Regions from separate parts of the Homo sapiens genome. Here regions 1, 2, 3 and 5 are each linked to region 4. The links come from fine-mapping of genetic effects on gene expression. A gene starts in region 4. Each other region holds a variant in brackets. All regions are shown on one strand. Distances are between the middles of the regions.

Region 1 (6,081 bases), 77 kb before region 4:
GCTGGGTGCAGTGGCTCACGCCTGTAATCCCAACACTCTGGGAGACTGAGGCAGGAGGATTGCTTGAGCCCAAGAGTTTGAGACCAGCCAGAGTAACATAGCGAGATCCTATCTCTACCAAAAAAAAAAAAATAGCCAGACATGGTGGCAGCTACCTGGAAGGATTGCTTGAGCCCGGGAGGTTGAGGCCACAGTGAGCTATGACCCCACCACTGCACTCCAGCCTGGGCCATAGAGCAAGACCCCGTCTTAGAAAAAAGCAACAGACACGTATAGATAATACTTACTACATTCCAAACTGTTCTAGGCACTTTGCTTGCATTGGCCCATTTAATCCTCATACCTTTCCGGGAGGCAGGTACTTCTTATTCCCATTTTAGAGATGAGGAGACTGAGGCACATTGAGGTTAAGTAACCTGCCTAAGGTCACACAGCTATTATTAGGTGGCAGAACTAGGCAAATATTTCCTGGATGAGCCTCCTCCTCCCCTCACACTCACCTCCACCAGGCCCCAGTGTCCTAGAGCCTGCTCTGATTTTGTCTCCTACCAGCTTGGGGGTCATCAGAGTTCCCTGCAGGCCGCTGGGTGACATTCAGACATTTTTCACTGGGCATTCTAGGCTCTCCTCCAACCAGCCCAGCTTACTCTTCCACCCTGTGGTTCTGCCATCAAACTGGGCCTGGGTTCTATTCATTTCTCCCACAGAACCTCCTCTGACATCCATCTCTCCGTGCCCAGAGCCTTCCTGTGCCTCTAAGTCTGCCTTCAAGACTTCCTGCTCCAGAGAGGCTTTGCTGACACTCTCACCTAGAGTGGTCTTTCCTTCCTCTAACTCCCCTGACACTTCTGTGATCCCCCTTGTTCCATGGCCCTTGTCACTTTTTGCCCTGAGGACATATCTTCTCTCTCCAACATAGGTGATAGATGATTCCAGGGGAGAAGCAATATATGTCTCCACCCACCCCATAAATGTATGTCAAAGAGATCTGTTTGTATCTGTTATCAAGGTGGCACCAATGTATGCACCACTGGCCCGGGGGCAGGAAACCTGGTTTCTAATCCTGTCACTACCCAGATGGCTGTGTGACTTTAGGCAAATCACCTGGTGTCGCTGTGCTTTAGTTTCCTTCTTGCTGGAAGTAGATAGCAATACTCACCCAGACAGAAGAGACCACGGTAAAGATCAGCTGACGGCCTCTGTGGGAACAAAGACAGGGAAAGGGGAAATGAGTTCACCAGAAACCAACAGGCAGCACAGGAGGTATGAAAATTGCCTGGCTTTGTTTGATGGGACATTAGGGAAAAGTTGTGCCTAGACTTCCCTTATTAAAAACAAAACAAAGAAAAACTGGCGAGGGTCAAATGAGAATACAAATACAGTAAGTGCGGAAGTCTCGTGGGGGGCCTCAGGGCTGGGTGGCTCTCGTCACTTTGCCCAGTCTTGGCCTTGGCACTACTGGGATTTGGGACTGCATCACTCCCTGCCGTGGGAGGCTGTCTTGTGTACTGTAGGATGTTTAGCAGCATGCCTGGCCTCTACTCACCCCCTCAGTTGTGGAAACCAAAACCGTCTCCAGATGTTACCAAACGTTCCTGGGGGTAAAATCGCCCCTGGTTGAGACCGCTGAGTTAGCCACCAACAAGCCTTCTCTGAGCACCTACTCTGAGCCTAGCCCCATGATTTATCTGACACAGGTCTGGTTTGGAAGTTAAAGCTTACACTCAAAGAATAGCTAAAGAGGTTCTTGCTGCCAAGTAAGAGGGATGGTGATGGAGAGGGGAGCCTCAGAGGCCCTGGGCAGCCCTTGGGCTGGGTCCCAAAGGAGGAACAGGGGAGATTGGAATTGGCTGAGAGAGGAAGGGGGTGCATTTTTGGTGAGGGGAGCAGCCTCAACCAACACAAGGGACAGGTACAGATAGGGCCGCTTTGCAACATCAAGACTTCTTTGGCTATACTGGGTGGAGGGTGCGTGTGTTCCGGGGAACAGTGGGAGAGAAGGTTAAATAAATATTCCCGGTTGATCGTGGGACCCTGGGTCTGATGGGAGAACCCAGTTGTGTAACCCAGACTCAATACCAGTCTCCCACAAATCCTCCTTAAACCCTTCTCCCCTGGCCCCGTGGTCTTCACACCCCACACTCTAATGGGGCTGGGCTTGGACCACACCCATGGGTGGTTGGAAGCCCTCAAGACTCACCCTGACTGCCTGGAAGCATGCCTTACCTGGTAACTGGTTTTTCCTGCAGGTGGTAAACCCGAAAAAGAAAATGAAGAAAAAGAAATACGTGAATTCTGGCACAGTGAGTAGCCACCCCGGTCTCTGCAGCCGGGTGTAGACATTCTGAGCCCCAAGCTAGGTCTGGTATCAGGGAGGCCCGTGCGTCTGTGTGTGTGCAGGGGCTGAGCGTGGGAATCAGACATCCAAGAGAGATGGGGTGGGGAGGGGTGGGGCAGATGGAGCAACAGCCAGGGGAGAGAGTTGACTTGCAGACCACACAACAGGCGCTGGCTGTATCTAGCATGAGGAATCGCAGAGACATCCACGGGACTTCCTGCAGGAAGGAAGAGGAAGAGAAGTCGTATTTATTGGGCCCCTACCCTGGGAAATTCCCCACGTTGGTGCTTTTCACAGGTTGTTGCCCTGAGAGGCAGATATTATCATCCCCTAGTCATGAAAGAGGAAACCAAGGCTGCAAGCAGGAAAGTGACTCAGCCAAGGTCACACAGCTAGAAAGTGGTAGAGATGGGACTCAACATGACATCTCACTCCAGAGCTGGCAGCTGCTACGGGCGCTGCCCCTGCTTAACCGTGACCTTCCTGGGATGACACGCCGGCCTAGTGGCTTCTCGGGGCTGGTCTTGAGGACATTCATACGCTT[C/A]TTCAGCAAATACTTACTGAGTGCTACTGTGTGCCAGGCACTATTCTAGGCACATCAGATACAGCTGGAAACAAGACAGACCCAAATCCCTGGTGCTTATATTCTAGTGGGAGGAGACAGAGAAAAAAAAAAAACACACACACACACACACACATGCCTGTGTGTGTCAGTTGATTATGAGAGCTATGGAAAAAGTATAAAGGGTAAAGGGACAGGCAATGGAGGAAGTATTGAGGATACTGGGGAAAGGGAATTCCAGCATTCCTGCTGTAGAGAACAGCACATGCAAAGGCCCTGAGGTGGAGCTCACAGTGCATTTCTAGAACAAGCCACTTTCTCTGCAGTGCAAACACACCCAGATTCATCCTCTCTGTGTTCCTTCCTCACTCTAGAGGCCCATGGCTAGTGCAGCCAAGCCTGGTCATTTGAGTCAGGCAGACTGTATCTCCAGACCTAGAAGAGGTTTTCAGGAGCTCTGGGGTTCCTCTGAGAAGCCTCATTTTCTCCGTCTGTAAAGTAGGACTAATAAATCATCCCCACCTTGCCACTGCACAGGGCAGCTGTGACAGACACATGGGAGATGCAGGCTTGTGAACTGTAAAATTACTCTGCTCATTCAAAGGGGACTGAACACCACTTCTTTGATTGTAACTGCTTCACAGACTGGGGCTTGGAGTCATATTTCCTTTGTCCAAGGCTGCGGTGTTTCTTAGTGGAGAGGCTGTCAGCATTTGGGCAGGAAAATTCTTCATCTCACAGGATGTTTAGCACCCCTGGCTGCTGCCCATAGCTACCAGTAGAGCCCCAGTCATTATGAGAACCCCCAAAATTCTCCCACGCCTTCCTAAATTCCCCTAGGGAAGACAGCACCTTCCCCAGCTGGGAATAAAAAGGTTCAAAAACCACTGATCTCATCCAGCCTTCTTACTTTAGAGACGAAGAAACTGTGGCCTAGAGAGGGCATGCGATTTGTCCCAGGTCACACAGTGAGCTGGAGACAGAGCGGGCCTAGGCCCAGGTCTCTTGACTTTCCTTTTACTCCAGCATTTCCCCATCTTCATCGCGAAAAATCACCCGGGATGCAGAAAGCTTGCTGAAATACAGACGCCCAGGCCAGTTCCCTGGGATTCCACTTTAGGAGGCCCAGGAATCTGTGTTTAGTGCTTTTCATCCCTTACTTATGGTGTGCAGAATCCCCTGGGGATCTTGTGAAAATGCCAAGAATCTGCATTTCTGCATTTCTACCTGGCATCGAGGTGATGCTGACGCTCTGGTCTAGGGACACTACCCTTTGAATAGGGGAAAGTCTGCTTTCACCCTGCGAGCCCCTGGGTGAACCCATATGGTCAGGGCAGTTAGGGCATTGCTTCATCCTGGGGGTTGGAATGGGGAGTGGTCAACTGTGTCTGCAGATTAGACTTACGTGAAGAGCTAAAAAAAAAAAAAAAAAAGAAGATCTCTGAAACATTCATGTAGCCCCGGAAACTCGGCTATAATGGGTCTGGGCTGCAGGATGATCTAAGAGCCCCCAGGGCATCTCATGGTCATCAGTCAGGGTTGAAGCCACTGCCGTGGTTCCTAGTAAGTCTGAGCTGCCACACTTGGAAGGAGGCCTGTGGTTCATCCAGGTGCCTAATACCTTAACCACAATAGCTGGGGGTCTTACTGCCAAGTAAGGGTGGTGCTCTCACCTGGCCCTCCCAATGAGCCTGTAAAAACAGCTGAATCTTCATGAATAGGGGGCTCCCAAACTACCAGAGAGGAGTTCGTTCTCTTACACAGGTGAAAGGTCCTCTGCCCTAATCTTGTCTCATATAATTGGCCTAGGATGCCAGGCTTTCATTTGTCTCCTTGATTCTAAATTGTTATGATAATGAGCTGCCAGGTAGCTGCCTGTCTTGGCAAAGCCAAAGCTAACTTTGCCAGGGCATAGGTTAAAAGGCCTCTGCTTGGGGGAGGGGGCCTGGGGTAGTCAGTTACCTCTGGGGAAAAGGATGGGCTACTTATGAGGCAGGATCTTGGGTCTGAGAGGGATGAGATGGGACCAGTAAGATTTAAGATAAGCACAGTCCAAAGAGGCACATTTCAGGACTAATAGCTCTAGGCACATGGAAGCCTGAAGCTGGTCGGCATTGGCAGGTTGTTAGGCCTGTGCCAGGAGGGCCCCCTTGTCCTCCACACCCCACCCTAGGTCCCTGGGGCTGAAGAGCCAGTGCCCACTTAGAGGAAACTAACACCCTTGGCTTGGACCCCGGTTCCACTGACACAGATGGGACCCTTCCGTCAAGGTCAAGAGTGCAGGCTCTGAAGTCAGACACACCCTGGTTTCAGATCCCTTCTCTGCCCTGGCAGTGTCCTTGGGCACATTGCACCACCTCTTTGGGTTTCAGTTTCCTTGGCTATAAAGTGGGGATAATAATAGTACTTCATGGGGTGGTGTGGGCAGTGCATGCAGTCATGCATGCAAAACTGGCACATGCCGAGTGTTCTGTCAATGTCAGCTCTCGAATCATAACCCATCTCCCCTGACCCCAGGCTCCCCACTGACCAAGCTCCCTTTTGTTTTGAAGGTCACCCTGCTTTCCTTTGCTGTGGAGTCAGAGTGCACCTTCCTTGACTACATCAAAGGAGGGTGAGAAGAGATACAGCCAATTTCATGGGCCTTGGGGAGAGGGAAAGGGCCCCACACACCGACAGGACCGGCTCTGGCCCCACCCTGGCCTCTTCAAAGCCCTGGTTGAAGGCTGTGGTGCTGGGCTCTGAGCAAACCCTGGTGTTTGGGCTGAGACAACTCATCCAGAGCCCTGCACATCCCCAGATCCCAAGCAGCTTGGAGGGAACTCCTGAGCCAAGGAGGCTGGCCTGGGTCATGTCAGGTCTCCATGCAGAGACAGGACCTGGAGCTGGTAGGGACTCCGTGACAGAAAGCCAAGGGCTTGGGGATGTAGAAAGAACCCTGCAATAGGAGTCAGGAGGCCCAGGCTCTAGGCCTCTCTTTGCCATTAATTTGCTGGGTTCCTTTGGGTGAGTCATTTTTCCTCTCAGGGTATCAGTTTCCTCCTCTGTACACAAAGAGAACGGAATAGGTAAGTGTTAAGGTTCCTTACAGCTCTGAGCTTCTGACACCTCTGATCTGTCTGGTTGGGGGAGGGGGACAGTGATTAACCTGCTCACTGTTATTAGGGCCCTGTAAGGGCAG
Region 2 (6,081 bases), 59 kb before region 4:
ACTCATCTCTCAACAAGTATTTACCAAACATGAGTGCCAGGCCCCACTCACGTATTGGAGACCATGCTGGAGATGCACACACAGAATTGCACCCTCAGGGGTGCCCCTGCTCTGGGGCAGTGAGCGAGGAAATACTACAACCATGGGGTACTGATGCCAAGCCATCAGGAGGGGCTGGGTAATCTGTGGGCACCAGAGTCACTGTGCCATGAGGAGGAGTCTGGCATCCCCTGTGCAATGGGGTCGTCACCACCACCCCCATCCTTGCAGGGTCATCGTGTGGCCAGAGTGACGAGTACATAAGGTTGCATGTGACATATGTGACATGCGCCCAGGACCCATGGCATTTTAGGTGCCCAAGAAACACTGTTTTCCTCTTGTTCCTCTTCACATATAAATCCCTGTGGCCATCAGGGACCAGGATCATAGCAAAAGGGGATTTCTCCCTTCTCTGGGCAAGTTTGTTCCCAGATTAGCCCTCCAGGCAGCCATTCCCACCCTGAACATCACAAGAAATTTGGAACTAATTATACCAAAGTTTGGGACTTGTTTACTTCTTATGATTTTATAGTAAATGGGTGCTGATTCACGGCTGTCCCTATAATTACATGCCCCTGTGACTTACATTCTGATATGCTTTGAGTGGGAACAGGGTGGGGTCACAGCTTGGAAGGAGGGAAGTTCCCATAACCAGCAGCTCATGTCACCTCACCACAGGGGCCGTGGGAAAGTGTCAGGAGAGGGTGCTTGCCTGGCAGGGGGACTGAGGCACAGAGCCACTGCCGGGGGCGGGACGGGACACCAAGAGCATCTTTGCTGTGCCCAACACCGTAGCATCTTGTGGATTCTTTCCCAAGGTGTGTTCCACAGAATACTGGCTCTCTGGCATGGAGTTTGGGAACCTGCCTGCTGTGCGTCCCTCTCGAGAGTCTCAGTGGCCTTTTGGGTATTCAAGGCTCTGGTAAGTCCTACAGCAAAGGGACCAGTATGATTTGGTTCAACCCAACGTTTCTCAAGCTTTGTATCACAGAGTCAGTGTGTGTATGTGTGTTTTGCTGGTAACACCGTCACCAAGCAGAACGTGCTGTCTTGGGAATTTCAGTAGAGACAATCTCCCGGGTTTCCAGGCCAACATGGAAGCCTGAAGCCTGCCCTGAGCAGGCCAGAGGGAGGGCACTGAGGGTGGGAAAAATGGAAACCTCAAATTGGGCTCTGGAGAGAAGAAAAGGGCTCTGAAAGGGATCCCTGCCCCAGGTGCTTCAGGAAGAGAAGCCACAGGGAAGAAAGGAGGGCTTCAGACATTCACAGTCCCGGAGTCATGGCTGCATGGTTGACTGGATTTTTGTCCCCCTATTGGACTGAGGGGTGTGTGGAACAGAGCTGGAGGGGTGGGCAGAGAGGGGAAAGGCTGTCCTGCCTCTGAGCTCACCCCCCAGGCTGTGGCTGGCCCTCTGCTCCCCCTACTCAATCTCCTGGCCTTCAGGATTAAGGACCCTAGGCTGTTACCCCCCAGATCATTCTCCACCCACTTCTCTGCCTTTGGAAGCCCCTCTGTCCTCCTCTTGTCCACTCACCTCAAATACCCCTGAATTAATACAAATAAAATAATAATAGTAGCAATGACCAGCACGCATATGCACTTACTAAGCATCCTTCTAAGCACTTTACATGTGTTTAGCAAATTCATCTTCATAACAACCCTGTGAAGAAGGTATGTACTGTCATCATCCCATTTTCCAGATGAGAACACTGAGACACAGAGGCTCAAGATCACACAATTAGAGAGCAGTGGAGCCTACAGAGATCTGAGCCTGAAAGTGGAGTGGGAGGATCCATCTGGTTACCTAGAGATGTGAGCTCTAGCTGAGCCATTTAGTTGCTTTGTGACCTTGTTTGGGCCATCTGCCCTCTGGGTCTCAGTCTCTCCACTGGTAAAATAGAGGGGATGGGCTGTCAGGTCCCTAAGGGTCTTCCCATCTCCCTTGAATCTCAGCGCATCCATCAGCCTATACTCTTAGACCCCCGCCAGGCCCCACAGGCCTCCTGAGGCCCTGTCACGGCCAGGCTGGACAGTCGCCACCACTGAGGCTGCCACTCCCACACCTCTGGGATGCCTGGCCATCATCGGCCTGCAGAAGAGGTCCCTGAGTCCTGCCTGGAAGGGGCGGGAGAGGTAGAAGCAGAGGATAGGGCTGACAGCGCAATTGGAGTAGGCCAGGATGGTGCAGAGGCTGGAGGCCACAAAAGCAGCCGGTGTGGCAGGCAGGTAGCCCATGGCTGCCACATAACCCAGCATGGAGCAGGGCCCCCACATCAGCACAAAAACCACCAGCACCACAAGGCTGAGCCCTATGTTCTCTTAATGCTCCTGGATGCTCTCTCCCATGGGACCTTGGGGCTGGGTCCACAGGAGCCAGCCCACGTGGCTGAAAGAGCAGCCCAGCCCCAGCGTGCATGGCAGGAAGGCCAGGGCTCCCAGCAGGCTGATGTAGCAGGAGGTCCCAGCAGGGCTCAGGAGCAAGAGGCAGGCCTGGGTCTTGGGAGCCCCCGCTGTCTCCTCCTCCACTGCCACCCTCTGGAACAGCCAGTTGGGCAGGGATTCTGTAAGGCCCAGGGCCCACATGGCCCCACAGAGCAGCAAGAGGGTGCCCCAGCCGGCTGGGAAGGCCAGGTCAGGCCGGGCCACAGCCACATGGCGCAGGAGAGCTGTGGCCACCATGCTATAGAAGATGCAGAACGTGGTGGCTGTGTTGGTGGCCTGGCTAATGGTGCAGATGGCAGGGCCCAGCCACCAGTTGTGCTGCAGGAAGCTCAGCAGCAGCACAGGCACCACGCAGGCCAGGAAGAGCAGGTCAGATGGCGTGATGTTCATCATGAGGCTGTGGGTCAGGGAGTGGAGCGGGTGGGGGGAGCCCGGGCCCCGGCCCACCACCAGCAGCATGAGCCCATTAGCTGACAGCCCCACCAGCAGGATGAGGCCACAGACCCCAGCAGAGATGAGTCGGAGCAGTCGCTCAGGTGTGGCCGTGAGCTGCGTGGTGAACGTAGCATTGGGCTCCATTCTGTTTCAAACACACAAGGACAAAGTAGAAACCAGCCAGCCCCAAAGGCCGCCTTCCCCATTCCTGCTAAGCCTCCTTTTTTCACAGACCCCCTGCATGTAGTGGGCCCAGATAAGGCCTGTCCTTGGCACACATTAGCCCCTGCAGACCTCATGACAACCCCATGGGATGGACTCCATTAGTACCCTGGGTTCAAATCCTGCCTCTGCTGCTTGCTAGCTCCAGTACCCTGGGATTTATTTATTTATTTATTTTTTTAGAAACAGAATCTCACTCTATCACCCAGGCTGGAGTGAGATCTTGACTCACTGCAACCTCCGCCTCCTAGGTTCAAGCGATTCTCATGCCTCGGCCTCCCAA[A/G]GTGCTGGGATTACAGGCGCCACCGCACCTGGCCCCTGGGAGAGTTACTTAATGTTTCTCTACCTCAGTTTCCTCAGCTGTAAGAAAGCAAGGAAATAAAATAAAACAGATGTCAATAGTAACTATCATAAGTGGTAAGACTAGGGTAATTTTCATTTTCTTCTTTAAAATTTATTTCTAAAATTTCTGCAGGGAGTACACATTGTTTTCATAATCTGATAAATATATATGTGCATACATACACACACACATATGTATCTATTTTTTGACAAAACAAAAACCCTGCCCTGTGAAACAAGCAGGTTTAATTTGAGGTTCAAATGGAAAAGTGGGTCTGAAAGGGCTTTGAGAAGGTGTGAAGCCCCTTCCAGTGGTTCCCAAGCTTCTCTGCACTTTGGGATCACCTGAGGAGTTTCACAAATACAGAAGCCTGGGTCCCACCCCCAGAGACATGACATAGTTGGTCTGGGCTTTAGCATTTTTGAAAGATCCCAAATAATTCTAAGGGCAGACCAGCCTGGGAATCATTGCCCTCTAGGTTATGCTGTGCAGGCCCCTGGCAGAGTGGGGGAGTCTGCACCCAGTGGTCAGACCTTTCTTCTCACCCCCACTCTGTCCCACATGTCAAGGGCAGGGGGAGTCCCCGATTGGGAGGACTCTGGCTACAAGATGGGATGTAGACATCCTAGAGCCAGCCCAGTGGCTGATGTCACCATTGGCCGCCCTGCAGGCCAGGCCAGGGCCCGGGAGCTTTAGCTGGAGGCTTGCCTGCTAACTCAGTACATATTTCCTGAGCATTTGCTCTGGACCAGGTTCCCGGAATCCAGCAGCAAACAAGACATAGCAGAGGAGTCCTTACTGGAGTTGCCCTCCCCTTTTCTACCACACCGGGGTGGGGGCTGGAGACACTCTTCTCCTGCGGGCTCAAAGCCAGGTTTGAAGGAGTCTCTGAGTCCCTCCTGCAGAGCCCCAGCCTGGGGAACTTGGCTTCGTCTCTGGGGCCCCAGGGCAGCAACGTGCCTGAGGGCAGCTGAGGGGAGACTGGAGAGGGGGCCTCTGTGAATTCTGATGTCGGCCACCTTCCCGGGTCCCACCAGCTTCAGAGACGGCAGGAGGAGGGGAAATGAAGGACCTGTCCTGGATGAAGGCTGTCATCCAGCCACTTTCCTGGCATTTATCACTGCCTTTTCGTCTCTTTTTCCTGGTCCACACCCACCAATGACATGGACTATTACTGGAGAGGAATTGGCAGGGAGCAATACGAGGCTTCAGGGACCTGGCCCCTCCTTCCCCGAAGCATCCGCATCTTCCTGTAAGCAGTTGCATAACTTCAGAGTTAAGTCTATGGGTATCGGCGTTTGCGTTTAACACTGGCTCCAGCACTTACTTGCTACGTGACTACGGGGAAGTTACTCAGCCTCCCTATGCAGTACTTTCCTTTTCCGTAAGATGGGGGAGCACGCCTGATGGTGTGAGGGCTAAATGAATTAACACGAGCTAGGTGCTCAGAACAGTGCCTGGCATACGGTAGGCACTGGGTAAAGGAGGGATGTCATTCTGCCCCTGCTCACCCTCAGCTCCCAAAAGCCCTCTTCTCTTAGAGCTCCTGCCCAGCCTTCCTTCTCTCCCCATGCCCTCCCTTCTCACTCCACAGCCTGAGTCCCATCAGCCCAGTCCCACCCTCCTTTTCTTAATCAGACTCTGGCTAAGCCTAAATCAGAGCCTCCTTGGCTGACATGCCCCAAGAACTCACCACTTGCCTGGAAGTTCACTCTGAAGTCTACCTCAAGTTTCTCCTGCTGCTGTCGTTGCCTACTTTGTGCTGCTCTGAGGTTCCTGGGTCCTGTTCCCTGGCTTGTGAGCCCTTTGACAGCAGGAAAGGCTGGTGGTCCTTGCACAGCTGTGCCCTGCCCAGCAGGTGGATCCGGCCCAAGAAAGCCAAAAGAGGGTGCTGGGCAGTGTGGAGTTCCTCCCAGAACTCCACCTCCTGCGAACCTGAGTTGCCTGAGGCCACAACAGAGCTGAGCTGAGACGGGGAGGCCTGGGGGCCACTCCCGTACCGGGCCCCCAAACGACAGGGGCTGTCTGCTCTACTGCCTCTCCCAGGAATCACACCCTGCCTACCTGCCTCATTAATTCCCTGGCCTACAGGACAGAGATGTTGGTGCCTGCCAGGTCCCTGGGCCCCAGAGAAAGAGCCATTAGCAACTATAGGACCTGTTTCCCATCCTTATCCAGGGCCAGCATCACTCACTGCAGCCCACACCCCTCTCTCTCTCTCTCTCTCTCTCTCTCTCTCTCTCTCTCTCTCTCTCTCTCTCTCTCTCTCTGAGCACACTGAGAAACTGCTCAGTTCAGGGGCAGGCTTGTGGGCTGCGGGAGGGGACCTGAGATGGGAGAAGACATTGGGGTAAAAAGGATCAGTGAAGGGCCCAGTAAAAGAATCAGCTGGAGGGCCGGGCGCGGTGGCTCATGCCTGTAATCCCAGCACTCTGGGAGGCCGAGGCGGGTGGATTATGAGGTCAAGAGATCGAGACCATCCTGACCAACATGGTGAAACCCCGTCTCTACTAAAAATACAAAAAATTAGCTGGGTGAGGTGGCGGGCGCCTGTAGGCCCAGCTACTTGGGAGGCTGAGGCAGGAGAATGGCGTGAACC
Region 3 (6,081 bases), 52 kb before region 4:
CCATGGCATTGGAGCAGGGGGCGGGACCCCCAAATGTGACCCCTGGGAGGTGTGTTTTGTATGGTGGGGAAAGGGAGTGAGGTTGGGGCTCTGGAAGACAGGAGGGCATCGAGGCATATCAGAGGCCTTTGGAACATTACTCTTCCCAGGAACCAGATTCTGCTGGGAAGAAAGCCCATGCTTGCAAATAGAAATAGCGAGGGAGACCAGGCCAACAGCGCCCTGCCAAGCAGAGCACAGAGGGACCGCTCTAACACCGAGCAACATGTGATTAACAGGTTACACTAATTAGGAGCCAGCAGCACCCAAGGGAGCTCCTTGGGAAGTTTCTCTCCTCCTCCTCCACATCTCTTTTTTCTGATTATGTATTGAATACTGTTATTGTTGAAAATCTGAAAATACAAATATGTGTAAAATGGAAAGTAACACCCCCCCCCCACATTCTCCCTAAAATTTTACACCCACAGATGTGCGGCCAATATTTTGGTGTATTTTCCTTAAGTCGTTTTTCTAGACTTTCTTTGTTTGGAGAGTTTTGCCATACCCCTGCCCCTCAAGCCTTGTTCACTCAGCAAAGCCCTCCTTTGGAGTGTGAAAGGCAGAGGTGATGCGGCCCTGCTCTGGGATCCGAGTCCTGAGTTGAGAAGGGTTTTCCTGAACCTCCAAGCTGGTCCTCTGTGTCGTTGCTGTCCAGGAACAAAGGACAGGAGCTGAGGGACAGGAAACCCCATGGGTGTCCATCCTACCCAGGACAGGACAGGTGATCAGGAGCAACAGCCGAATCTCTTGGGCGGCCTCTTGGGGGCCACCTTCACCAGCGAGTCCTTCAGGCCTTCTTCTTGCATCCTGAGTGACCTATGTGACAGTGCCAGGCATCAGGCCTCTCTCTCACCTCCTACGGGCAGCACGGATGGGCCCATGGGTGCAGCTGGGGGGTGGGAGGCCGCACCCACAACCCCCACAACAGCTCTGCCCCTGCCCTGCATTCCACATGAGACCCGAAGAATTGAGTCACTGAGACTTTGACCTTCTCTTTCTGGCCTACTATGTGCCAGGCACTGTGCAGGACTCTGACTATGACAAAGAAGCCACCATTCCCTCCCTTGAGTAGTGAGAGAGACAGACAGGAAAAGGGGTGACTGCAGCCCGGGAATGATGGGGAGGCACACAGGGACTTCACACCAGGTCCTGGAGGGATCTGGGGAGGAAGGAGATGGTGACCGAACTGAGCCATGGACAAGGTATGCCAGCAGAAAGGGTGGGGGAGGTGCATCCCAAGCAGAGGGCCATGGCGCGGCTCAGTGCCGAGAGAGCTTGGAGGCTGGGGAAGCAAAAGAAGTCCATTCATTTCTTCGTGATATATTTACTGTGTGCCAGATGGTGCTCATCTGATCTAGCTCCCCTCATGCCTTACTCATTTTATTCATTTATGGAGCACCTAGGTCCCAGGTATGGGGAGAGGGGCTGAACAAAACAGACATGGCCCTGCCTTCCTGGACAACAAGAAAACAGATAAATGCATATATCATTAATATGTGTCGTGTCAAGAAGGGCCATGAAGGACACAAACAGGGGCTGTGATCCAAAATAGTGATGGCAGGTGGGTGATCAGGGAGGGAGTCTCTGAGTGGCTGGAACTTGGCAAGTGTGTGTGTGTGAGTGTGAGTGTGTGTAAGAGTGTGAGTGTGTGTGGGTGTGAGTGAATGTGTGTGTGTGTAGGGGTGGGGGAGATGGCACTAGAGATGCTGCAGGCCATTGCAAAGCATTTGGATTTTAATGGAAGCTACTGGAAGTTTGGGAGCAGAAGAGAGACACTCCTTTTCTCAGCCCTCTTTGCAAATGAAAAAACTGAGGCTCAGAGAGCCTAAGTGCCTGTGGGGAGTGATTCAGCGAACGGGAAGGGCAGAGCTGGAGTCAGGAGACTCTCAGTGCAGGGCTCTCTCTCCCCTCAGACTGGTGAGCCCAGGTCTTTAACTAGGTGCTTCCCTGACCCATTTCCTCAGAATGGGCCTTCCTGTCCCACCTGGGAGTCAAGAGTGGGGCCGGAGCTGTCCCAGAGGATTCTGCAAGGGGGGGGGTGGGGGCGGCGGGGGGCGGGCAGCACTTACCTGGCCAGGTTTACTACAGGCTCCAGGATGTTGTGACCCAAGGCGGCACTGCACTCCCCAAAATAGACCCCCAGTTCCTGCAGGCCAGACAGGGAGGGACATATGTGCCTTGGGAGAGACAACTGAAAGGCCAGGCCATACCCCGCCACTAAAGTCCCGGCCATCAGAGTCCCAATGCATCCCTAAGCTGACCTCAGTGGCGAGCAAGACAGCCCCATCTCAGCGTGGGCCACGGTCCCTGCCTGGAGCCCTTTGCCCACTGTCCCTTCACCCCGGCTGGCCAAGGTGTCAAGGAATGCATTGAAGAGACATTTCACAGCCTTCGGAGTGGCATGGGAAGCCTGCATCCCAACTTGGAGAAATGCCCCTGGAGACATTTTATAAATGTTAGTTATGTTTTTTAATTTCAGAAATATTTCATTGGGGGAATATTGGAAGATATAGTATAAGACAGTACCAGCTCAATATCTAAACCACTGCTGTTAGTGTTTGGGTAGATATTGCCATTCTGTTTTATATAACCCTTTTACGGGGCGGGGGCTAACTGTCCTGTACAGTTAGGTTAAACCACACGAAATTGCTATTTTTGGCAAGCTCCAGTCAAATATCAGCAATTTCATATGTTTCAACCTAACCTATATCTAGATTTGTAGCTGCTTATATGATTTTCTATTATATTGTAAGCATTTCCCCCACACCCTTAAATATTTTTCCAAGACAGGATTCTTAATGGCAAATACTAACCTCTCACATGAACATCCACAGTTTAACCACCAATTGCTGCCAAATGTTTGTTCTTATAAATAATATTTGAAAACCCTCATATAAACCTGTTCGATTGTACGTTATACATGGGTATCCATTAGGTGTTCCTTTAGGGATTATTACTTCTGAGTCTTCCCTTACGATAAATTGCTAGAGGATAAATTACTATGTCAAAGGGATGAGTTACTACTTTTAAGAAAAAGGCCGAGCATGGTGGCTCACGCCTGTAATCCCAGCACTTTGGGAGCCCGAGG[T/C]AGGCAGATCCCTTGAGGTCAGGAGTTCCAGATCAGCCTGGCCAACATGGTGAAACCCCGTCTCTACTAAAAATACAAAAATTAGCCGGGCGTGGTGGCACATGCCTGTAATCCCAGCTACTAAGGAGGCTGAGGTGGGAGAATCGCTTGAACCCGGGAGTCGGAGGTTGCAATGAGCCAAGATCGTGCCACTGCACTCCAGCCTGGGTGACAGAGCAAGATTCCATCTCAAAAAAAAAAAAAAGAAAGAAAGAAAGAAAAAAAATTCCCTTCCAGCAGGAGCCACAATGATGACCTCACAATTTACGGGAAGTGGGAAGAGAAACAGGAAGGAAATACAGTAGGAAGATGCCAAGAGGGGTTGTGTGAGAGGTGGGGCGAGGAGTGATTTTTCCCTCTATTTTTATTACTCTCCAGATTTTCTGGAATGTGGTTAAATGCCATTCATGAATAGATAGTGTTCACTGTCTGGCAGTGGGGCTTTTGATGTAATCATCCCAAGGGAGAATTTGAGTCTTAAAATAGGAGAACTTAGAAGGCAGCACGTTAATTAGAGACCAGAGATAAAATTAAAATTTGATTGGGAATTTTAAGCAAAGCTTTCAAAACCTTTTTACTCTGAAGCTATTTCTTATGTAGGTGGGGACATGGTGTGGGAATGTGCTAATTCAACAGTGAGGTTCAGTGTCACGCCCGCCACTCCAGCCTTGGGTTTGGGCTTAAAGCGCATCTCCAGAGGCCAGGGCTGTGTGGGAGGCAGAGGTGGCTAGGCTGCTGTCCACTCTGAACAGGCCTTTGGTTGGGGCAGGGGCAGGAATGGGCCACGGGTTCTTCTCGGCTGCCCAGGTCAGGTGATGCCTATCCACCACCTGCCAGGGAGGTGTCTGCCCAGTCCACGCACAGAGACGGGCTGATGCCCAAGTGCTTACCTGGGCCAGTTGCTGCCCAGCTTCCACGGACACTTGCCGTTCCTCCTCACAGTCCATCTTGTTTCCCAGGAGAAGGATGACCACCCCATCCGACCCTGCATCCTGCACACAGAACATGTTCTGTCAGCCACACCCACTGTGTGCCAGGCTCCTGGCACATTTGCCTTCCTAGAAGCTGAACTGTGTCCCCCGCATGTTCCCCCTCCCAGGCCACATCCACTCCATAACCTTCTCACCTGGACCCTTTCCCCCATCCTTCCTCTCTGCTGATAAACATCTCACTTATTTTCCAAGGCCAACCTTAAGAACACCTCCCCCAGGAAGCCTTCCTGGGTTGTTCCTGCCCATGTCCTCTCTTCCTGCCTGTTCTGAACAGTCCAGCACTTGATTATACATTTTCCCAATTGTCTCATGAATAATAATAATAGTTTCTGATTAGTGAGTGATTGCTATACACCAGGTGCTGTGCTGAAAGCAATTCTATCAATTAATTGTCACAACTCCCCTATGAGAGAATTCCAGAAATTGAAGTTCAGAGAACTCAATTCACTTGTCCAAAGTCACAGAGTTCGGGTGGGTGGGATTCAAATGTAGGTCCTGTCAGACCCCAGTGCTCAGCTCCCCTCTTCACACATTACCTTATCCTGCTTCTTTTGCTAAACTAGAAACTTCCAGAGAGAAGGCAACATGGCTAACTTCACACCCCTCTGCTGTGCTAGTACACACTGCAGAATTTCAGTATATATGCTTTGAGGAAGTAAGCAGGGGAAAAACTAGAGATGTGTGAACAGAGGAATTACCACATGGAATGGCACAAGAACTACATTAGCCTCAAGTGTAAGAAGAAGACATTACAAACAGCTGCCATATGTAGGAAGAGAATGTTCACAGGATAAAGGAAGTAGTTTGGTTTGAAGTCTGTACTATGTGGTTGTGGTTTCTTTGTACTACTGCATTCCCAGCTCATCCAACCACATGCCCTCAGTGGGTGGTGTCACCCATATGTCTGTCATGTCATTTGTAATCCTGGGAGAAAAGAGGGAGTGGGCAGGATATAAGATCCCTCTTGACTGGAGGGACTGGGGCCAACCCCAGCAGCCATCTGCTCACCTGGAGACAGTCTAGCCAGTAGCGCACGTGGGCAAAGCTCTCCTGGGAGGTGATGTCGTACATGAGCACCACCCCGTCAGCCTTGCGGAGCAGCTGTCGCGTCATACTGTGGTACCTGCCCAGAGAGTCTGCATGAGGCCACACCAGGCATCCAGACCCCAGGCCCTGGCCTCTGCAAAGTGGGAGAAGTAACCTATCCTACTTCTAATTGCTTCCCACAGAGCATGTCCGTATGCTTTTCTTCGTACAGTGTAGTTATTGTTGACTAGGTAACAGTTCTCATGGCTCAAATTTCAAAAGGTCTCAAGGAGAACTCAATGAAAAGTCTCCTTCCTTCTGCCCCATCCTGGAGCCACCCAGTCCCCCTCCCCAGAGGCAACCAGGGTTATCAGTTTCTTAAATATTTTTCCAGAGGCATTTTACGTATATACATATATATACACACACATATATACACCCATACACATACATCTTTCCCCCTCTATTTTATACAAATACAGTGTAAAACATTCATCATACTCATTAATATTCAGTGTTCTGCATTTTGTTTTTTTCCAGTTAACAGGATGTCTTGGAGAAATTTCCCTATCGGGCTGGGCACGGTGGCTCACGCCTGTAATCCCAGCACTTTGGGAGGCTGAGGCAGGAGGATCACTTGCGGTCAGGAGTTCCAGATCGGCCTGGCCAACATGGTGAAACCCTGTGTCTACTAAAAATACAAAAATTAGCTGGATGTGGTTGTATGTGTCTGTAGTCCCAGCTCCTCAGGAGGCTGAGGCACAAGAATCACTTAAGCCCTGGAGGTGGAGATTGCAGTGAGCTGAGATCACACCACCACACTCCAGCCTGGGTGACAGAGCAAGACTCTGTCTCAAAAAAAAAAAAAAAATCCCTATTAGTACATAAAGAGAGTCC
Region 4 (5,694 bases):
AATGGACATTCTGGGTCTCAATACATCATAGGCACAAGGAGGAGGCGCCCGCCTAGGGCTTCATCAAGGTGCTGGATATTCCCTGGCTCTCGGGAGTTCAAGACAGGACTAGGATCTAGGCAGGCACCCTCTCCTCTTCTACCACCCCTCCTTCTCTTATGGCTCTCATAGGCCTCTCCTCCCCCATCAAAATCTGCTCTCATGCTCATAATAACTTTCAGCCCAAAGAAAACTCAGAAACGCAAACCCTTGTTTTAGAAACAATTAAAAATAGCCTCCTTTATTGGCCTTCCTGCCTTAGACTTCAGCCATATTTTAATTTCCAGTAAGAGCTCAGTGAATACTGTTGAACCTAAGGAGTGCTCCTTTGAAGGGGTGGTAATGGCATAGGGGTTGATCTCGGATGAGCCCAGGAGTAGCCGCGGCGGTTCGCGCCGGCCAGCCCCACTCCGCGGGAAAGCCTGTGTGCTATTCCCGCCAGGGCCGGGAGGGGGCGCCGGCCTCCAGGAAATCACGCGCGGAGTGGGAGGTGCGTGGGCAGAGCCTCGGACCGCTGGAGGGAGTAGTGATGAGTCAGTTTCCTGCAAGGCGCTGCTCGCCCGCCAAAACTGCTTCCACTCCGGCTGCGCGTCACCCTGGGGTGGGGAGGGGGAGAATGGGAGGGGACCGGGGGGCCGCGAACACGTCACGCTGAGCCGGCCAGGCTTCCGAAACTCCCGCCGCTGTTGGGAAACCGCGCGCTCTTGTGCCGTCTCTGACACAGACACACACACACACACACACACACACACACACACACACGCCCGCGCAGACACGCACGCGCGCGCGCGCCGGGAGCCGGCCCCTCCACCTTATCTCCACGCCCAAAGCACGGGATGAGTCAGATCCCTGGAAAATAAAAATAGACGGGAGCAACGAAAACAAAACCGCTCGCAAGTCCTCCCAGAAACGCGACGTGGAGGGAGGCAAGGAGAGGGGAAGCTGCCTGGGCGCCCCAAGTTCCTAACCCAGCTCCAAGATGCTTTTCCTCACGAAGAGGGCGCAAGTGTCCCCCAGGGGTTTGGGACGGAGAGGACGCGCTGTGGTCCGCGCCAGGCGGCGGCGCCCCAGGGGGCGACTCGCCCCCCTGCTCCGCTCAGCCCTGTAGCTTTCGGAGAGGGAATCTGGGCTAGGTCGGGAAGCCCTGAGCCCCCGAGGCAGCTGATAGAGGCCCTGAGCAGCGTCGTGCCCCCCAGACCCCCCACCCCTCAAAGACATGAACCCTCCCCGCCTCCCATCCAGGCGTGGGCTCCGCTCCCGCCCCGGAGTCCAGCGCCCCGACCCGAGGACAGGCTGGGCCGCGATTCTCCCGGCCGCGGTGGGAAAGAGGTAGAGGAGACCCTTGCCCTTCCCCGACTGACAGGCTGGTTAGAGCCCGCCCAGAGCAGGGCCGTGACTCCCCGACCCCTACAGCGCGCCGCGGAGCGGGGACCCGACGCGGTGTCCCGGACCTCCAGTGCCCGGCTTCCTTGGGAACAAACTGTTCCAGCCAAATAGGTCACTGTGCCGATGGGAGGACGGAGACCGCGAAGGGGCAGGGGAGAGGGCTTCTGGAGTCCCGCTGTACCCCATCCCGGGCGGGGTTCTGACCTCATACAGTCCGTTCCCTGGGGTCTCCTTGTCACAGTGAGTCACCTCCTCGCTAGTCCTTAGGGGACGGGTCCTGGCACATTCCCAAGGGCCAGGAAACAGCCCGCGCTGACCTCAGCGCTCAGCCAGGTGGTGGACACAGTGGCGTAAAGGACCTGAACCTGGGACCTGGGCCAGGGCGGCGCAGATTGGATCCCAGAGCCACCCGGGACCGATCCTAGACGAACTTACTCCACTCCGCTTTCCTCGCCCTTCCTGGGCCCCTCCAGGGACACGGACTTCATCCCCACGCCGCGAGCAAACTGCGCCTGGGGCCTGGAGCCAACCGCAGCCAAAGGCGAGCTCCCAGAACGGTCCCGTCCACGCCCTCCCTCGCCCCAGCTGGGTTTCCAGGGGCGGGGAGCGTGACCAGGGATTCCTGTACTTGTAATCCCGCTCTCCGCCCCGGGGTCTCCGGCACATCCCGACTCTCGTCACCCGCGCACTTAGAGACACCGTGTGCGCAAGCCGAGCGCGCACCGACCCACGCCCGTCATTCACCTGCCGCAGAAACACCTGTGAACGCAGCACACACCCGCGAACACGCATCCTCGCGGACACGCAGGGACACACGCGGGCACGCTTGGCTCGGCTCTGGGCCGCCGGCCCGGGGTCCCCTGTTGTCTGCCGCCGCTCTCTCACCTCCTCTGAGTGCCTCGGTGCCTCGGCGAATCCGCGCCCAGCTCCGGCTCCACAAGGAACTGACTTCGGCAGCTGCTCACACCTCAGCTGGCGCAGCTCAGCGCGGCCCTGATATACAACCGCCCCGCCCGGGCCCGCCTCAAGGAGGCGGGACCCGCGCTCGGCCCACCGCGCCGCCCGGGACCGCCCTCCCCGGGGCCCAGGCTCCTGGCTGCCCAGCGCCGAGCCAGCTGAGCCTGGCCGAGTTCCAGCAGGCCAGCCGGTCCCGGAACCTCGCGTGCTGCAGGAGGGCACTTCCCTCCTCCCCCAGTCCCTCGCCTGCGTTGGTGCGCTGGACACATTTCCCCACGAAGTGAGCCACAAATCTGGCTTTTTTTACTTGGAGAATGAGTTGGCACTCTCCAGGAGGACACAGCACTGTTAGAATGAGCCCCCTTTCTGGCTCACCGCTGACCCACTCTGGCAGGCAAGGATTTACCCAATGCAGCTGAAAAGATCAGGAGGATGACATTAATACATAAAAATTCATAAATTATAAAAACGATGCACCTCTCTGCAATTTCCAGAAAAGCCCCACAATATCACCTCTATTCCCACTGATCCCTCACTAGGTCACCTCTCCCAGAAGCACCTGGAGCACCTAGACACCCCAACAAAGCATCTTGAGGCCAGAATGATTTTTCAGTCCCGTTTATTTCACAGATGAGGAAATTGAGGTCCACTGAACTTAAGTATACAAAGTTGTTGATTGTCACATGCTTCCGGGAAGGAGGGAATTGGAGAGACTACCAAAAAAGGGCAACCTGATCTCCAGGGAAACAGAAGAATTGGACATTGAACCAATCTCCCTACACCCTACACTCACCTGAACAGAAGAAATCCCTGTGGTTGCAGCAGCTTTGTTGGCCAGGAAGGGGAGGATTTGACGAGTGAGTTGTCTGTCTCCTGAATACTCCCCACATAGCCCGTATACACTGCTGGGGAAACTGGGGCTCAGAGAAGTCTGGTGACCTAACTCAGATCATGCAGCAAAGAAATGACTATAGTTGGAACACAGGACTTTTGCCTCCTGCCCGGGGCTCTCTGCTTGTCATCCTTTATTTCTGTGGCTCCAAAATGACAAAAATGCCAAATAACCCTCATTTGCAGATGGTTTATGGAGATGACATAAATAAAGGACAATTCTGGAAGTGTCTACTGGTTCTTCTGACAGACACAGAAATGAGTGATGTGTCTATCCGCTCCCATCTACCTCACACCCCTGACCTCCCCTGGACTTCACCTTTGCCTCCTTTCTGTGCCTGAAACATTTGCAGTTTTGCTTTTAAAAAATTGCAGAGGATGGATTGTTCATCTGAACAGAAATCCCACTAAAAAACAGAACCCAGGCTTGGAGCAGCTACAATTACTGACATCTCAGGCTGCTCAGAGTCTGGAAATCTCTGCCCAGACATGCCCAGTCTTCTTCCTCTAACGCAGCTGACCTCGGGGAGGACAGGCTTCTTTCTCCTCTGCTGTGGGGATGGGAGCCCAGGTAGGGGTGGGAGGACACAGTAGCAGACCCCCTTGGCCTGCCTCGCCCTGGAGTCAGGCCAGGATTGTGGCTAAACCCCAGAAAGGCCACGGCACAGCCTCAGGACCCCACTCTAAGCCCCACTGCTGTCTGCACCTTCGCTCCTATACATCCAAACCATCCAAAGGGCTGGTTGTCAAATGTCCAGCAGAGGACAGGCACCTTCTCCCACTGCCTTGAAGCCCCTCTGCTTTCAGGCATTTCAAATAGACTAGACATTGTCTGTCTGTTTACTTTGGGGAGAAAATTTTTTTTAATAAAGGCTTGTAATGAATTATTTAAATTTTTGTGGTACTGAGCTTCACAATGAAATAATTCTTTTTGTTGTTGTTTTTGGGAAAGAATTTTTTTTATAACTTCTAGCTCACCACCACCACGACATTCAATATTTCTTAAGTACCTACTAAGTGTCTAGTACTATTCAGTGCTTTAAAAAAAAAAGTTTGCAACCATGCACTTGAATGTGTACCCAGACACACTCTAAGGGAGGACTTCTGCCCTGAAAAAGGCAAGGGAGCAGGCTGTTAAAAGTCACACACAGAATCTGACTCCCAGCACACACTCACACAAGCACACATGCATCAGATCCCAGCCCTGTCGCAAGGATCTGCTGGCAGATCACATACCCTGTTCAGAGTAACAGGCTAAGGTTTACCTGGGGTCTTTAGAGGTCTCCTGTCTCCTACCATCCCCTTCCTCACCTGAAAACAGGCAGCCCAAGGACAAAATAGCCACCAGCCTCTTCTATGCCAGAGCTCAACATGTTGGGACATGTTCCTGACGGCCAGAAAGCCAATCAGAGCCACAGCCTGCTGCCCAAGCATGTTCCTGGGAAGCAGGCAGCATAGGGATGGAGGGAGGCTCAGCCTGGGGGACAAGAGTGCCCAGTCCAGCCCCCTCCCCAGAGTGCGGTGGAGCAGCATGGGGTAGGGGAATGGTGAAAGGTGGAAAGCCCAAGCCTGAAGAAGGAGGATGTGAGGAAGGCTCAGTGGTGGCTGCAGAAGCTGCCTAGGAAGGGAGAGGAAGTGCTGGGAACAATGTCACCATTTCTCAGAAAGAGACTGGGGAGTCCCAAATAGGGGCAGTCAGCTTTCAGAGGAATTCACCTTCACACAGGCTCCCAAGAAGTGAGACCCCAGAGAAGAGGCGGAACAAAGATAGAACATTATTGAGCAGAGGCAGCCCTGGCTTTTTGTTTTCATTTTGTTTTTTTGTTTTGTTTTGTTTTTTGAGACAAAGTCAGCAGTGGCACAATCTCAGCTCACTGCAGTCTCCGCCTCCCAGGTTCAAGCAATTCTGCCTCAGCCTCCCGAGTAGCTGGGATTACAGGCATGCACCACCATGCCCAGCTAATATTTGTATTTTTTTTTTTGCACAAAAAGTTGGATTTATTGTTTCTGACAAGTGGTTAGTAATTTTCAGTTTGCTCATGTTCCTAGCATCACAAATCTGAAGTACAATTTTGCTTCTCAATTAAAAATATATACTGGCCGGGCGTGGTGGCTTACGCCTGTAATCCCAGCACTTTGGGAGGCCGAGGCGGGCAGATCACAGGGTCAGGAGTTTTGAGACCAGCCTGGCCAATATGGTGAAACCCCGTCTCCATTAAAAATACAAAAATCAGCCGGGCATGGTGGTGGGCACCTGTAGTCCCAGGTATTCAGGTGGCTGAGGTGGGAGAATCGCTTGAACCTAGGAGGCGGAGGTTGCAGTGAGCTGAGATCATGCCACCTGCACTCCAGCCTGGGTGACAGAGTGAGACTCCGTCTCAAAAAAAAAATATATAAATCTTTGTGTAAAATGAAAAAAAA
Region 5 (6,081 bases), 68 kb before region 4:
ACATAAGGACTCTCTCTTTATCAAACATAACCACAATACCATAACCACACCTAAAAAATTAACAATTCCTTAATACTAAATATCTAGTAAATGTTTACATCTCCCCAATTATCTTATAGTTTTAAAATTGGTTTGTTTGAGTCAGAAATCCAGGCAAGAGCCATAGGCTGTGATTGGTGGGTTGGTCTCTTAATTCTCTTTTCATCTATTCATTCCCCCCAAGCACCTGAATGGCTTGCTAACACAGATTCCTGTACCCCACCAAGAGAATCTAATATTCAGCCAGATGTGGTGGCTCACACCTGTAATCCCAGCACTTTGGGAGGCTGAGGCAGGAGGATTACTTTTGCCCAGGAGTTCAAGACCAGGTTGGCCAATATAATGAGACCCCATCTCTGCAAAAAGAAAAAAAAAAGCCAGGTGTGGTGGTGCGTGCCTGTGGTCCCAGCTATTTAGGAGGCTGAGGTGGGAAAACTGCTTGAGCCCAGGAGGTTGAGGCTGAAGTGAGCTGTGATCACGCCACTGCATTTCAGCCTGGGTGACAGAGCGAGACCTCTTTTCCAAAAAAAGATTCAGGAGAGCTAGATAGAGTCTGAGAGGCCCAGCATATTCCCAGGAGATGGTGCTGCTGCTGTCTCTGGTAGTGCTTCTACAGAGTTTCCCAAAGACTGGATTTTGCTGGCTGCATCTCCTGTGGTGTCATTTAATGTGTTCCTCTGTCCCTTGTATTTCCTGTAACTAACTAGACAGCTCTGGAGCCTCAATCAGAATCAGGTTCAATTTTTTGGTAAGACAACTTCATGGGTGGTATTCTATTCTTTCTTTAGGAGATGCATAATGTCTATTTGACTCTCTTTTTTGTCAAATGAGTTTTCGTCCTGAATCTCACTCCAAATTTGAGTCAGCAATCCAATGAGACCCAACCTCACCCAGCCTACACAGGTGGGCCCAGGGGGTAGGGTTTGTGGAGGAAATAAGTGACCATAGCCACATGCCCACACAGAACACAATCATCTTCAAAGAGCTTTCCTACTGCATAACTCTTCTGATGCTCATTAATCCTGTAAGGGGGGCATAGCTGGCATTACTATCTCAGCTCTCCAGAACTAGAAAGAGATGAATGACTTCACCAAGGCCACACACCTGGCAAGCAGCAGAGCCAGGGTGGTAGCCAATGTCTAGCACTGTCCCCCCTCCCACAGCCCTGCCTCCCTCCAGGTGACTCCCCTGCTGTTCTCCCTCTTCTAGGACCCAGATCAACTTCACTGTGGCCATTGATTTCACTGCCTCCAATGGTGAGTTGGGGGATGGGTAGAGGAGCAGGGTGGGAGGAGAGAGCTTTTAAGGGCTGTGGCATCTGGCCCTGGCTGGGACCATGACCCTCATACTCTCTGGCCTCTTCCTCACCAAAGAGGATGTACCTAGGTCTGGAGGACCAAAGATACAACCAAGATGGCAGTAGTATCCCCAGGTTGGACCATTGACATAAATCTGGGCTCTGAGCCACAGCCTTGTCCTTGAGGAACACCCAGTCTCCCTGGGGGAATGGGATTGTGTGTACTCTGGGCCTATGGAGGGCCCTGGAGATGTTTCCCCCCGGGATCAAATCCCAGCTCCTCTGTGCAGTCCAACCCACAGGCTGGAGTGGAGAATCAGAGCCAAGGCTGAGCTCTGTGGTGTTCAGGGAGGCAGGATCCAGCCCAGGGACCCCAGTCCTTACCTGGCTGGGGCTGCCCTGGCTTCCTTACCTCCTCCCAATTTCTCCAGTGTCAGCCTGTGGCTGAGTCACTAGGAGCAATAACAGTGCCCAACTTTACATGATTAGAAACATCACAACCTCCCTTGGGCTCTGGGCTCTATTAGGGGTGCTCAGTGCTAATTTTTGCACCAATCAAAAATGCCCAGGTCTTGCCCTCTACAGGTGTCAGGAGCTCCTCTTATAGCTGTAAGTCCTAGCATCATAGAGCACTGGGCTATCAGAGCTGGAAGGGGCCTTAGTAATAATAACACTGAGGATAGTTATCATAATATCGATAGCATCTGTGTAATATTCACATCAATCCTATGAAGTAGGAACTATTATTGCTCTGATTTTACAGGTGAAGAGACTAAGGCTAAGGTTAAGGAACTTACCCAAGATCACATAACTAGCAGGAGGTAGACAGGATTGGTACCTTGGCAATCTGTGCTGTACTACCTCCCATCAATGAACAAATAAGTTAAATACAGACTATATTGGCAGCGAAGAGGGCTCTGGGGGGGGAAATCAAGCCAGGAAGAAGGATAGGAAGGATTGGGGGAGGCTGTAATTTTTAATAGGCTGCTTGGAAAAGATCACACTGAGGAGGTGACACTTGAGCAGAGACCTGAAGAGGCCAGGGAGCGGGCCAGGGAGTGGACATCTGGGGAAGAGTGTCCCAGGTAGAGGGAACAGCCATCACCAAGGTCCTGAGGTGGGAATGGCGAGGGGCTGGTGAGGCTGGGACTGGCGAGTGACAGGGAGGAGGGTAGGAGATGACCTGGAGGCCAGATCATGAGTGCTTGCGGGCTCTTGTGAGGACTTTGGGTTTCATTTTGGGGGAGGTGGAGGCATTGAGCGTTTTGGGCAGAGGAGAGGCATGATCTCTCTGAGGC[G/A]GATAGGCTCAGTCACTGCTGTGCTGGATATGGGCTGGAGGCACAGGGGCAGAAGGAAGTGGGAGATCAGTTAGGAGACTGCTGCATCCTATAAGCAAGAGGGTGGTGGTATGGGGAGGAGGAGAGGCGGAGGAGGGATTCTAGATCTGTTTTGCTGAAGGATTTAACATGGGGTATGAGAGAAAGAGAGGAGTCAAGAATTAATAAAAGTTAGGGGTGCCCTTGGACACCCCCTTCTTCATTCTGAACCCGGGGTGACTTGGAGGGTCCAGATGGTCAAAGGCTCCCATGTCCTGTGTTACAGGGAACCCCTCACAGTCCACATCCCTGCACTACATGAGCCCCTACCAGCTGAACGCCTACGCGCTGGCGCTGACTGCCGTCGGAGAGATCATCCAGCACTACGACAGTGACAAGATGTTCCCTGCCCTGGGCTTCGGGGCCAAGCTGCCCCCGGATGGCAGAGTGTCCCACGAGTTCCCACTGGTAGGTGGTCCCGCTGGTGGGAGAGAGGACTGATCAGGCTGGGGGTGAGGTGACAAGCTGGGGGTGGGGGGACGTTTCCCTTCCTCTGAGCCCGGGGACTTAAGGCTCAGCCTCAGTGGAGGTAGACTGCCTGCTGTGTGTAGGGGGGCTCCAGAAATCCACTCCCTTCCCTGATCACAGATGCTGCCCCTCCATGTCTGAAGCTGCCTGCCCACAGCTGGCCCTGGCTTCCTTGTTCCTGACAAGACGCAGGTGCAGGTGGAGGCGAGCTGTGGCTGACCCATCCCTCAGGGCCCCAGAAAAGTGAACAAGGTGGTGTGGGTTGGGTATCCCTGAGTCAGTGCTGAGATGGGATGACGTGGATCTCCAGGGTGATGTGGAGCATGGCGTCATCTGGGCATCCCGGGCCCTGTGGAGATGATTGCACAGGCCACCCCTTTCCCTGGCTCCCACGAGCTGGGGACACTCAGGCACAGCAGACGTCCCTCCCATGCCTGAGGGTGCAAGGTGCTGTGCTGGGCCCAGTGTGCACGTGGACAGATCAGCCACAGGTCCTTCCTGAGTTGCTGAGACCCAGCAGTCATTTTAGGGCAGAGTGGATTTACCCAAGGTTCCCTGAGGGAAGCAGCCAGGGATCTTGGGGCATCTCTGAACAGGTACAGGGAGCCGGGTAAGGAGCAGGTTTGGACCCAGCTCACCTGAAGCATGCACTGCTTCAGGATGGGCCCTGGGAGCTCCCTCCCCTGCCCCGCCACCCCACACCAGAGAAGACCTGGGGGAGCCCAGGCCTGCTGGCCTCCCCACCTGGACTCAGTTCCCACACATCGTGCACCCCTGTCCTTCCTTCCTGGGCTCAGCCTCCCTGCCCTCTGTCCCCCAGAATGGCAACCAGGAGAACCCCTCATGCTGTGGCATCGACGGCATCCTGGAGGCCTACCACCGCAGCCTGCGCACTGTGCAGCTGTACGGCCCCACCAACTTTGCCCCCGTGGTCACCCACGTGGCCAGGTGAGTGCCGCTGCCACCGCCTCCAGGCACTCACAAGGCCTCTGTTTCCACACCAGCTCTGCCTCTGGGTGGTGGGAGGGGGTTTCTCTTCCCACGCACTTGCCTTTCAGGGAGCCCTGACCCTGAAGAGATTCCCCCAAGAGCTGTCACCCTCCAAAGTGTTCAGGGTCCTTGTTTAGGGGGGAACATGCCCAGAGGTCCCGCAGACAGACCTGAGCCCACACCTGCCCCACCCAGGAATGCAGCGGCCGTGCAGGATGGCTCCCAGTACTCGGTGCTGCTCATCATTACTGATGGGGTCATCTCGGACATGGCGCAGACCAAGGAGGCCATTGTCAACGTAAGCAAGGAGTGTGCGGTGGGGGAGGCGGTTTGAGGAGTGTCTTCCTCCCCGTTAGGGGAACCCTGGGGATGTGCCTACCTCCTTGACCTTAGGGAAATGCTTGGAGATGACTTGGGCGTGGCTTCTCATTTCCCTGCCTCACTGGGCCCCACTGCCCTCATCCACCTTCTGGCCTCTGGCTGCAGAGTCCGGTGCTGGATAGTGGATTCTAGCGGGTGGAAGGGGTGCCCAGATCATGAGAGATCTGGCTGGTGAGCTCTGTTCCCACCTCTTAGTCACGCTCTGGTCTACTCCCTCCAGACCCCAATGACTCCCTCATTAACCCATCTCTAGGACCGCTTCCCCCTTTCCCAGGCCAGCCTGGCCAGGTCAAAGGAGTGGGAGGGGAGGCTCAGAGTTGGGGAAGCTCAGGAACATGGCTCCCCAAGCCGGTGGTCTCCCTGTAAGAGGGGATGGGGGTGACTCACCAAAGCAGACCTATGACCCATTCCCCCTGCCACCCTCCCTCTCTCCTCCAGGCGCAGCCTGGTTTCCTTTGCTCTTTATCTCTGAGTGCCCTCCCTCTCCCTACCCCCTTTTCTGTGTTTCTCTGTCTCTCCATGTTCACTCTCCCATTTCTTTCCTGCCCACCCCTTCCTGTCCTACCCCTGATTTCTCCTTCCTTTTAACTGGGTCCCAATTGGGTCCAACCTTTCCCTGCCCCCCATGCTGTCTCCCAGGCTGCCAAGCTCCCCATGTCCATCATTATCGTCGGCGTGGGCCAGGCAGAGTTCGACGGTGAGTCCAGCTGCTGCCTTCCCCTCCTTTCCTTCCCTAGCCACGCAACCCTGCCCCCACCCCAGATGTTTCCCCAGAGGCTGTGGTCCCCTGGGAATGACCCCTCCCAAAAGAGTGAGAGCTCCCGCCTGGGCGTGTGTGTCTGGGTGAGTGTGCAGGGTGTGGGACGCATTTGTTTGCTCAGGGAAGGGTGTGTCAGGTCTGGGTGTGCACCCACACCCACATCCCAAGGCTGTGGGGAGGAGGCCCCAAGTCACTTCTTTCTCCTCCAGCCCTGGGAGTCTGGGGAGGGTGGTGAACCAAAGCACTGGGCTCAAAGTCAGAGGCTCACCTGATCGGGCTCCTCCTGGCCCCTGGCCTCAGTTTCCTCATCTCTAACACGGGGCATGGGCCAGTGGTCTCGGCCCTGGATTGGCCTGGGATGAAAGGACAAGTCCACTCTCCTGCTAGGGCCAGGGGTCCACCGTTAATCTCACCCCGCCCCATGACACTCCTCCCCTCACAGCCATGGTGGAGCTGGATGGCGACGACGTGCGGATCTCCTCCCGGGGGAAGCTGGCTGAACGCGACATCGTCCAGGTGAAGCCCAGGCCTTGCCTGCCCCATGGGAAATTCAAGAGCCCCTCTAGCCAGGCGGACCTCACACCCCCTTTGGGGGCTTCCCTGGTGAAGGGCCCAGAAGGGAGGCACTGGGAGCCCCAAAGTGGCCCAGCCACCACCGAAGGGAGTAGGAGTCAGTCCTCGGCCATGCTGTGGTCTGGGCTGGGCCCCCCTCTGTCACATCTGGGACACACTCCTAACATTGCGGGTGCCCAGCCAGAGGCCAGAACCCT

The links.
Region 1: its variant is fine-mapped to the expression of CDKN1A in whole blood (TOPMed, PIP above 0.99).
Region 2: its variant is fine-mapped to the expression of CDKN1A in whole blood (INTERVAL, PIP 0.93).
Region 3: its variant is fine-mapped to the expression of CDKN1A in whole blood (TOPMed, PIP above 0.99).
Region 5: its variant is fine-mapped to the expression of CDKN1A in whole blood (TOPMed, PIP above 0.99).

Annotation. Positions count from the first base shown.
Region 1 is chr6:36,752,467-36,758,547 of GRCh38, reverse strand. It overlaps CPNE5 (copine 5), which reads left to right. Exons shown (of 21, transcript NM_020939.2): 13 at 2,250-2,303; 14 at 5,453-5,514. Among named protein-coding and RNA genes, the nearest start is that of RAB44, 58 kb to the right of the region's middle. RefSeq lists an enhancer at 1,987-3,186. The variant C/A (reference allele first, on the strand shown) is at 2,883.
Region 2 is chr6:36,733,985-36,740,065 of GRCh38, reverse strand. It overlaps the pseudogene GPR166P. Among named protein-coding and RNA genes, the nearest start is that of RAB44, 39 kb to the right of the region's middle. RefSeq lists an enhancer at 4,305-4,806. The variant A/G (reference allele first, on the strand shown) is at 3,423.
Region 3 is chr6:36,726,777-36,732,857 of GRCh38, reverse strand. It overlaps RAB44 (RAB44, member RAS oncogene family), which reads right to left. Exons shown (of 14, transcript NM_001257357.2): 11 at 5,167-5,281; 12 at 4,057-4,158; 13 at 2,109-2,185; 14 at 1-855. The coding sequence ends at 765. Among named protein-coding and RNA genes, the nearest start is that of RAB44, 32 kb to the right of the region's middle. RefSeq lists an enhancer at 6,060-6,081. The variant T/C (reference allele first, on the strand shown) is at 3,128.
Region 4 is chr6:36,675,415-36,681,108 of GRCh38, reverse strand. It overlaps CDKN1A (cyclin dependent kinase inhibitor 1A), which reads right to left and starts at 2,395. Exons shown (of 3, transcript NM_000389.5): 1 at 2,311-2,395. DINOL (damage induced long noncoding RNA) reads left to right here and starts at 2,550. Exons shown (of 1, transcript NR_144384.1): 1 at 2,550-3,500. It also overlaps the pseudogene LAP3P2. RefSeq lists silencers at 393-782, 2,353-2,582 and enhancers at 1,514-2,101, 2,113-2,302, 3,495-4,694, 4,674-4,743, 4,794-4,883.
Region 5 is chr6:36,743,435-36,749,515 of GRCh38, reverse strand. It overlaps CPNE5 (copine 5), which reads left to right. Exons shown (of 21, transcript NM_020939.2): 15 at 1,249-1,295; 16 at 2,939-3,120; 17 at 4,001-4,128; 18 at 4,366-4,468; 19 at 5,191-5,248; 20 at 5,754-5,827. Among named protein-coding and RNA genes, the nearest start is that of RAB44, 49 kb to the right of the region's middle. RefSeq lists a silencer at 4,383-4,583. The variant G/A (reference allele first, on the strand shown) is at 2,635.